Regions from separate parts of the Homo sapiens genome. Here all the other regions are reported to be linked to region 1. Evidence: microRNA targets listed by miRTarBase, many of them from high-throughput screens and not tested one by one. Region 1 holds a microRNA gene; each other region holds the end of a gene's coding sequence.

Region 1 (3,263 bases):
CTGACTTTACTTGTATAATTTGGCAACATTATACTGCATCTAAGAATTTCATATTCTTCATGGTATGGCTATAAATTTCAGTTTAAAACTTACAGAAATAACCAGACAGTTTTATAGTATCAGACTCTTCACATCATAATTTTTATCAGCTGCAACAAAAAGTAAAACAAAACTGTTTTACTGTTACTGTTATCCTTGCCAAATATAACCTCTGTAAAAAGTATGGTGAAATATGTTCATACATATAAACATGACTGCAGGCGACAGAGCAGTCTTTAACTTATAAGCAACCTAAAGGTCATCTTGTATTAACGACTCTGCTAAAGACATCTTGACAGCACGATATGCTAAAGATTTCTTTCCAGGCTTTCAAAGAACCTATCTGTAATATACCAAACTGTAATTTTTCTACCTTACAAGAAGAACGGTTGGGTATTTACACTTTTTACAACATTCATCCTTATATTGTTCAAATATACAGTGAACATGTGCTAATTTCATAATTCTAAAAAAAGCTAATTTAAAAAACTACCCATAATATTATTGAGTAACATGTAATTATCATATATACTGTTAAAAGATGAGGTTTTTTTAACAAAAAAATTAGCCGGGCTTGGTGGCGTGCACCTGTAATCCCAGCTACTTGGGAGGCTTAGGCAGGAGAATCACTTCTCCTGGCCCGGGAGGCAGGAGGTTGCAGTGAGCCAAAATCATGCCACTGCACTCCAGCTTGGGCTACAGAGCAAGACCCCATCTCAAAAAAAAAAAAAAAAAAAAAAAGAGGGGGGCGGGAGTGGAGGGGGGCGGGGGTTCAAGCAGCTAGGACTGATTTGGTATTAAAGTCATTCATTTCCATTCATTCATGTATATAAACATACACATATATACAGACATTTATTTAGTTCTGAAGATTAATAAAATTCAAGTATTTCCTGAATTTCTCACTTAGTGTGCAAATAACTCAACCGTCTCCCCTACAATTATATTTTGCTTTTAAAAAAAGCCAATATTAAATACATTTTTGTGGAACTACACAAAGCCATATATTAAAATTATTTATAATTGTTGATGGTGAACCTTATAAATGGGATTATACTTCTCTCCTACAAAATGAGGAGTGCTACTGCAAGTGGCTCAAAAAGGAAAAAGAGAAAAATTAAGTTTGAAAAACTTTCATGTCAATGACAAAAGTGTTTTATATAGTAACCAGCTAAAGATAAAATCACTGAAAAAGTGATGTCAAGTTGACAATCCATACTAAAAACTTCTTTGCTTGTTTTATTTCTATATCTATCTCCATATATATGGAGATATCTATATATATATATATATATATACGGAGCTAGATATAGATATATATAGATATAAGTAGTTTATCTTGATTTTCTTATTTTGGGAAAGAGGAGCATAAAAGAAAGGAGAAATTATTGGAATTTAGGTTACCTCCTAAGAAAGGAGGCTTTGCTTTAAGAAGATGGGGAATGTAATACTCTATTCGTCTAACCAATCAATAACCACACTTTGAAATCTTTCACTTGTCTTCAACTAGCCATGTAGATCTGTTCCTCAGTATTGCCTTCGATCCACTCTTACCACTTTCTGTCACCTTACTAAAGCATGGCTCTGATCATGTTTTTAAACTCACTAAAAATAGTCTAATGATCTTATAACTGTACTATTTTTGTCCCACCTATTTGTTCAGTTTTCTCTGTATACTTCCTTCTATTTCCTACCCACTAACAACTCATTGTTTGAGATACTTTGATCACATCCGGTATTCATACCTTTGCTCATGCACCGTACCATGTGCCCAGAATAGGCTACCCTGCTCCCATCTCTGCTTATTACTATGTCATGTTTTCCATAAGACTTTCCTCATATCCCTCCAAGTAGACTAACTTCCCTCTTTCCTGACTTAAGGCATTCTTGATTATGTTTATATTCTAGAACTTCTCATATTTTGTCATGTATTATAGTTAGCTATATACAGTTAAGTCTTAGACCCCACTAGATTAATTAAAGGCTGATCAGAAGGAATTGTCTAGAGCTCAGCTGTCATGACCTATTGTTAAATATATTCCCCCAACAACCCTAGAAAGGAATTCTGCATGGTTTAGATAATATGTTTGATTGATTAACCTCATCTTCCATCTGTGAAACATGCTTCCCGCATTTTTCTTTTTTAATTCTCATTTGACAAAGAAGGCTGGCTCTAAAAAGAACAGCTCAGGCTATGCCCAAAAAGTCAAATGATTACTAACAAGCAAGTTACTTAAAAAACAGTATCCGGTATTTGTGAAAGAAGAGTTTTACATTTCACCTAAATGCCAAATCTCCCAATAATATTAAATCAGACCTTAAAGGGTGGGTAACATTTAGAATAAGTAAACAGGGAGATTAAGGAAAGACGCTGATACAGATGACCTAAGCAGAAGAAACAACATGAATAAAAACACAGAAAATAAGAGTTAGGCATTGAGAATGGTTTGGCTAGAGATGAGTAAGTGGACATTAAGTTCCTTTCATATGCCCCTATAGTGCCTGCAGCTTAGCTGGCAATAAAAAATGTTTAATAAATGAATGATAAAATAACATATTTTTAAAGGGCTGAGGAAGAAATGGAAGACAGAAAAAGAAAGGTGTGATATTTCTTTCACTTTGCCCTCTGATAGTTACATTTTTTTAATGTATCCATTTTTAATGAATGAATAAATTCATTTCTCTGGAAGTGGATCAAATACAAAATTAGACCCAAGTATACACATTTAATAAATGCACACATGGACAGATTTAGTTGTCAAAAGAATGGCTCTAAATGCAAGAATCTCTGTAAAGACCTAATTGGAATCAGAGCTGACGCTGAGATCGCTGTGATACCAGCATGGCCCTAAGCCAAATCTCTTTTCTGGCTGACCATGCAGGCTGTGTCACTGGACATTAACTTCACACAACATGTAACAAACCACCAAGTGTCTAGTTCTCTTGTGTCCGCCTAAGGCCAGAGCCTACCTTCCCTTACAGCAGTGCCAGCTTATCAACGTACTCAAATTTTATTACAACAAAGTCTTGGAAAGCAAATCCAAGAAGGCAAAAAATAAGTCATTTCTACTCTTCTTGTTACATCTAGATCTTGTCATAATTTAGTAAACTAAACTTCTATAATCAATGAGGTGGGAAAGACTCAGTGCTCCAGGCTGGCATTCTAAACCTCCTACAACCGGGTCTGAGCTTCCATTCTGCTCTCGTGTTCCACTACTCCTCCA
Region 2 (3,263 bases), not on the chromosome of region 1:
ATAAATCAAAACACAATACATGCTTGCCTGGTATATATTTAGCTGCAGAGCTATTCTGCAGAAAATCAGGGGATGATATCCCAAAGAAAGAGATATTTTATATAGGTCACAGCAAAGGGTGGGCACAATTTTCTTCAGTGGCTTCATGACTGCATTAGGATCTATTTATTCTTTCATTACTGTGTCAGTCAGGCATTCTCCCTCAAAGAGATGCTGTGTAAGCAGTAGGGACTCATCAGCATTAATCTCATTCTAATATTTCCTGGGGGCAGGAAATGACATGTTGGTTTTACTTTGATGGTTTTTATGTCATTGCATTACTTAAAGTGTAGCAGTCACTCTATTCTAGGCCATTAGTTTGTCATTTTTTTCCATGATTCTTGCAAATGTGCTTCTTACATAAGAAAAATACCAAAGACTTTGTTCTCGAAAGCAGCCTTAGTGAAATTCATTTATTTCAAGATCACAGTGTGGATAATACCTCCATGAGTAGGTCTGACCAAGAGACAGGAAGAGAAAGGCTGGAAAACTTGTGAAGTGTAGTGTATCCACTTACTTAGAAAGTTTGGGAATGAAAAAGGATTTTTTTTTTTGCATAAACATTCAGAAACACTGACTCATAAAAAAGAAGTGGATTAAACGCAATTGAAATAACTAAAAATATGTCTGAGTGAATAATGCACAGACTAGGGACAGTACAATTTACACACCAATGCCATATGTCATCAGAAACTGTGGACACAGATTTGCTCATTAAGCAGATAGTGCAAATATGCATATATTTACCATGGCCACTGCACAGGCGGCCGTAATCTGATTGAAGCAAAAAAGGAAAGTCCCTCAACCTGTCAACTTTCAGTTTTGAGGACTGGATTGTTATATTTCCAGTGGAATGATTCTCCTGTTAATTTTGGAAATCATGGCCAAAGCCCACAGATGAGAAGGGAATCCCAGGGTGTAATCAAACATTACACACTTTTAAAACAGAGGTAAGTTCTGGAAAATTATAACAAAATACTGTTTTTAAAAAGCACAGTTTTGGGCTGGGCACGGTGGCTCATGCCTGTAATCCCAGCACTTTGGGAGGCCACGGCAGGTGGATTACGAGGTCAGGAGTTTGAGACCAGCCTGGCCAACATGGTGAAACCCCATCTCTACTAAAAATACAAAAAATTAGCCAGGCGTGGTGGCACACACCTGTAACCCCAGCAACCTGGGAGGCTGAGGCAGGAGAATCGCTTGAACCCAGGAGGTGGAGATTGCAGTGAGCTGAGATCATGCCATTGCACTCTAGCCTGGGTGACAGAGCAAGACTCTGTCTTGAGAAAAAAAAAAAAAAGCACAATTTTGCTTTATTGGCAGTACCAAAATAAAGTTAACTGAACCAGAGTAAAATATGGCATTTGATGTTTCTCTAACACCATAGAGATCAGAGAAATTGAAAGGTATGCCATGCTCGCCGGCAGAATTTTCAACATGGTCCATTTCCCAAAACCTTCACATTAGCTTTCCTCAAGAGCAGCCTTACTGAGTGCAAGCACATATTTGTACATAGGCCCAGACACACACACACTATTATAATTTATACACAATAACTAGTCTACTTTCCTCTTTTCTTAACATAATTGTATTTATAATGGTGATGCTACCGATTTAGAATAACAGACACCTTTCCTCTGCATTATGAAGAATTGTGATTATCTAGGCCGCAAACTTTGAAGGTATCGTTTTTTCTTTTTTCCCCCCTGAATTTGTGAGTTTTGCTTAAACTTCTAAAAATATCTAATTGTAGAGAAGCTATATGAACAAAGCCAACTTCTGTAGCAATGTTAGATTTACCAACTGGAATATTTACCAGAAAACACAAAACCAACCAGATAATCACATTCTTTCTAATGTTCAAACAACTTTAACTTCCTCCCCCACCCACCAAATGGAACCCAAAAAGCCTCATGTTGCTCTTCATTGATACCTTTCTTGAAGATCATAAAACCCAACTATATTAGATTGGATGCTTAACACAAACAAACAGAAATAACTGAGCATACTAAACATGTTATTCAAGCCTAATTTTATAGCTGAAAATTGGGCAGCTTATCAAAAAAATAGAGTTGATTTAAAAGGCTTCAGCCCATTTTCTGGTTTGTTTAATAATATTTGTTTCTCTTCTCTTTCGCCTAAGAGACTAACTTTTCCAACAATCATTACTACTATTTTCATTTCATTGGCTCAAAATTACATGCAACAATGCCTCTTTGATTGTTGCCAGTTTTTAATACTGCAAGGACTGATGCTGTAACACTTTCCAGGGCACAATACTGCACAAAGCCATACAAGACTGGCTGTATAACTTAGTGGGTGAAATAATTTTTCCCTCTTTGCATTTTTAGCTGTGAACATAGGTACCTACATCAAGGATTACCAGTCACCTCTCAAAAACAATTTCTGAGCCTTTCATTTTCACCCAACTGGAATCAAGCTTGCTTGTTGGGACAGTATGACTTGTGAAGAAGTTTCTAGTGGAAAAATACAGTATTCCCTTCTCATTCCACAGACAATGCTCCACTGGGACAGAAGCCCAGCCAATCTGCTTCCACTTTTCTGTAACAAACAGGGTGAAGTACCCAAGATGTGATGTCTACACTTGAGTCTGATGCTGAGTCTCCACAAAGGGAATGTGAAGGCTGGCGAGGCTGAGCTCTCCCACGCTCTCGTAGTCACTCATGGCTACTTCGGAATCGTCAAAGCCGCAGTTGGCAGACACATCCGAGGATGAGGTGCCTCTGGAATTGTGCAAGGACAGAGACACGCTGTCTGCTGGGCCTGTGGGCTCTGTGCCCTGGTTCATGCTCACAGCAAAAGTACTAAATTCACAGCTGGCAGGCGGGCCCACCAAATCCGTTTCGTTGGGGAATGGGTGAGGAGGGAGATACTGGCTAGGATGAAACTGGGGCCTTCTCCTGCAGTCTGGGCTCAGTGTGCTGGCCAGGGAGACAGGCTGGGAGGGTGGCAGGGCCTCATATTGGTCTGGGAAGTCCTCCGGGAGAGGAGGAGGCAGCTGGTCCTGACTCAAGAACTCCTCTTCATGAGGGGGTGGGTATTCACTGTCAATGTCATAACCACCCAGGTAGTAATCGCTCTCCAGCTCCCGTGTGCTCCCCTGGTGTGCAGACCCTCCATCCTGGTTCTCATAGTTGGGCACTTCCTCTATGTCCGACAGGCGGGCCCCTGGCATCCAATCAGAGGTGTCCCAGTGATAGGCT
Region 3 (3,263 bases), not on the chromosome of region 1:
GTTAGAAACTTTCTGAATGGCAGTTTGGTAATAACAAACAAAAAGCTTAAGTTTGTGTCCTTAAATGCCTTACTTCAATACCCAAGGCATATGGCCTCAATAAAAAATTATGGAAGCATGCAAAGATTTTGTTAACAAAGATATAATCATTGCAGGGTAGAATTTAGAAATTTAAGACTGAAAGATCTTTTCAGTCACCTGCAGCAAGAAAGGAGTCAAAACCTATGTACGATCTCAACTAGTAAAATTTTCTCCTTGCCCAGGGATCATGCTGAGTTTAAGGACAGAAATGCAAAGTGCAGCCTGGGAAAGTGTTTCAACACACAAAAATAGAACCACCTGTATGTAGTCTTTTTGAAAGCACAAAATAAAGAGCAGTCCTACAGGGTTCACTGCTATGTCCTGAATGTTGATGTCCCTTCCAAAATTCATATGTTGGAACCTAATGTCAATGTAATAGTATTAAGAGGTGGGGCTTTTGGGAAGCAATGGAGTCATGAGGGCTTCACCCTCATGAGTAGGATAAGTACCCTTACAAAAGAGGCTCAGGGAGGCGCTCTTGCCTCTTCCACCATGTAAGGACACGTAGCAGGCACCCATTTCTGAAGAATGGGCCCTCCCCAGACTCCATATCTGCTGGTGCCTTGATCTTGGACTTAGCCTCTAGGACTGTGAGTGACATATTTCTATTGTTTATAAATTATCCAGTATAAGTAAGATATTTTGTTAGAGCAGCCTGAACGAACTAAGACACTCTAAGCGGGAAACTCACAAAAAATATTTGGTAGTGAAAAACAGTATGGTGTGTTAATGTATGGTGACAAGTGTTTGTTTGCATTTAAAAATGCATTGGAGCCTCGTTTTGATTAGGCAGTAAATTTACCTTTAATACGTAAGTTTGACAGTTATATGTAATCAGCTTTTTTTTTTTTAAGATGGTGTGATTGAGGTTAATGTGAACTGAACTTTCTATTTCTAAGCTGTCTTCATCTAATTTTACCTTTCTGTGGAAAATCAATACAAGTCAACCATTTTTATTGCCCAGTTATTCAAAGTTTTATTCAAAGAGCAAAGATTTGACAATGCATAGAATTAACATTGGTTTGTGGGCCACCTTCTGGGCCAGCACCAAAGACTGAAAAAATATTTTGCCCCCTAAAAGTTGTTATTGAGTCTTGTCAAATCACATTGCTCTGTCAGAAGGTAAGACAAATCAGTGTGGACTGAGAGCAAGGTCAGCACCGTGAACAGCCATTGCGGTTCCTTTAACCCACTGGGAATTCATGCAGTGAAGAAGCAACACACCATGAGGCAAATGGCTCAAACCCAAAGACCAGAGGTTCAGGGGATATATATATATATTTTTTTAATCTGTAGAGATGGGATCTCACTATCTTGCCCAGGCTGGTCTCGAACTCTTGGGCTCATGCTGTCCTACCTCAGACTTCCAAGTAGCTGGGTTTTCTTTGGGCTAATTATTTTTTTGTAGAGATGGAGGTCTCGCTGTGTTGCCCAGGCTGGTCTCAAATTCCTGGCCTCAAGCTCTCCTCCCATCTCAGCCTCCCAAAGTGTTGGGATTACAGGCATGAGCCATGTGCCCAGTCTAGAAGATCTTTGACTTCAAAGAACAGATAATCTAGAGACCTTCACAAGTGATCATGTTGGCACTATGGTCATTACACTGAGACCTATAACTGGGCTAGGATTGGTTATTTACAGAAAAACCTTGTGGTACTTAATTCCAATTCATGTTAATTTATGTTATCTTGCTTAATCCTTGCAAAGCCCTTTTAGAGGTGGGTGTTATCCCATCTATAATCTGCTGCTTGTCTTAGACCAAGGAAGTGAAAGTATTCAGTCCAAGCATGCTACCATCCATTTCTGGTAGGTTTGGTTTGTTTTTAGTTGGCTTTCCTGTTTAACTGTTATTTGTCTTCCTATTGAGGTTAGATGTGCATTTTGGAATTGCATCATTTTACATAGAAACAGCTTTCCAGTGGAGTTGACTAGCATCCTAAGGACAAGTACAACCACTTTTGAAATAGATCATGGAAATCACAAAGTCTGATGTTCCACAAAATGGAGTATGATGTTATGGACACTAGAAATACAAGGTATGGGTCATTAGTAACGCTAATAACATTTTCCTATAGATGACTTTTAATAACACTGGTTTAATGTCAATTTTTTTTTTTTTTTTTTTTTTTTTTTTTTTTTTTTTTTTTTTTGGAGACAGGGTCTCCCTCTGTCACCCAGGCTGGTTGGAATGCAGGAGTTCGAACTTGGCTCACTGCAACCTCTGCCTCCTAGGTTCAAGTGATCCTCCCGCCTCAGTCCCCCAAGTACCTGGGACCACAGGCACACGCCACCATGCCTGGCTAATTTTTGTATATTTTGTAGAGATGGGGTTTCACCATATTGGCCAGGCTGGTCTCAAATTCCTGGACTCAAGCAGTCCATCTGCCTCAGCCTCCCAAAGTGATGGGATTACAGGCGTGAGCTGCTGTGCCTGGCAGAACAGTATGAAGTGTTAACGCCAAAATTTGTTTTAGCTATCATATATAAATCATAAGCATATTATTTGGTTGGTTGGTGTTAGTTCATTCCTTCAATCGGATGATTTAAAATAAATGTTTTTCAAGTATCCTCTGTGATGTATCCCAAAGGTTAGCTTAGAAAGAAAAGTACTTGGTGAACCATTCCTGGTGCGGAGAGCCCTGTTTCTGCTGGACTTCTTTGGCTTGGGCCGTTTCACCATCTGGGGTCCTAAAAGCAAAAAAAGGTTTTTTTATATGGTTTTGAAAACTATGCAAGAAGCAGCTTAATACCCACCATCTTTTCAGGGAAAGATAACTGCTTGTTTACTCTTCAAAAACACCCAAATGGGACTGGCCAACATTAGTAGTGGGAAACAAATTGTAAAGGATGGGGCTGGGGAGGGAGTACCTAATCCTCATTTGGAAAACAGAAGGTTCACCATTGTTTGGTTCTCCATTGTTCCTTTGAGACTTAGTGGTTGTAGCTCTAATAATGCAGGATTAACCAAACCTACAGATCAAGAGACTTTGTTTTTATTTTTTGTGACAGAGTCTCCCTCTGTCACCCAGGCTGGAGTGCAGTGGCATGATCTCGGCTCACTGCAACCTCCAGCCTCCTGCGTTCAAGCGATCATTGTGCCTCAGCCTCCCGGGGAGCTGGAATTACAGGCGCATACCACCACACCTGGCTAATTTTTGTATTTTTTGTAGAGATGGGTTTCACCA

The links. Region 1 holds the annotated microRNA hsa-miR-620 (AUGGAGAUAGAUAUAGAAAU, at 1,281-1,300, opposite strand). A microRNA usually pairs through its seed, bases 2 to 8, with sites in the 3' UTR of a target mRNA and lowers its output. Matches are read on the target gene's strand: a 7mer-m8 pairs with bases 2 to 8, a 7mer-A1 pairs with bases 2 to 7 and ends in A, and an 8mer does both.
Region 2: the mRNA of FAT3 is a reported target of hsa-miR-620. Seed matches in the 3' UTR shown: 7mer-m8 at 1,254-1,260.
Region 3: miRTarBase lists FAM184B as a target of hsa-miR-620. Seed matches in the 3' UTR shown: 7mer-A1 at 2,227-2,233.

Annotation. Positions count from the first base shown.
Region 1 is chr12:116,147,295-116,150,557 of GRCh38, forward strand. It overlaps MIR620 (microRNA 620), which reads right to left and starts at 1,360; the gene lies at 1,266-1,360. The region is part of intron 2 of MED13L (mediator complex subunit 13L); the gene reads right to left.
Region 2 is chr11:92,890,489-92,893,751 of GRCh38, reverse strand. FAT3 (FAT atypical cadherin 3) reads right to left here. Exons shown (of 28, transcript NM_001367949.2): 28 at 1-3,261. The coding sequence ends at 2,639. Among named protein-coding and RNA genes, the nearest start is that of LINC02746, 24 kb to the left of the region's middle.
Region 3 is chr4:17,629,860-17,633,122 of GRCh38, forward strand. It overlaps FAM184B (family with sequence similarity 184 member B), which reads right to left. Exons shown (of 18, transcript NM_015688.2): 18 at 1-2,766. The coding sequence ends at 2,673. MED28 (mediator complex subunit 28) reads left to right here. Exons shown (of 4, transcript NM_025205.5): 4 at 1-3,263. Among named protein-coding and RNA genes, the nearest start is that of MED28, 17 kb to the left of the region's middle.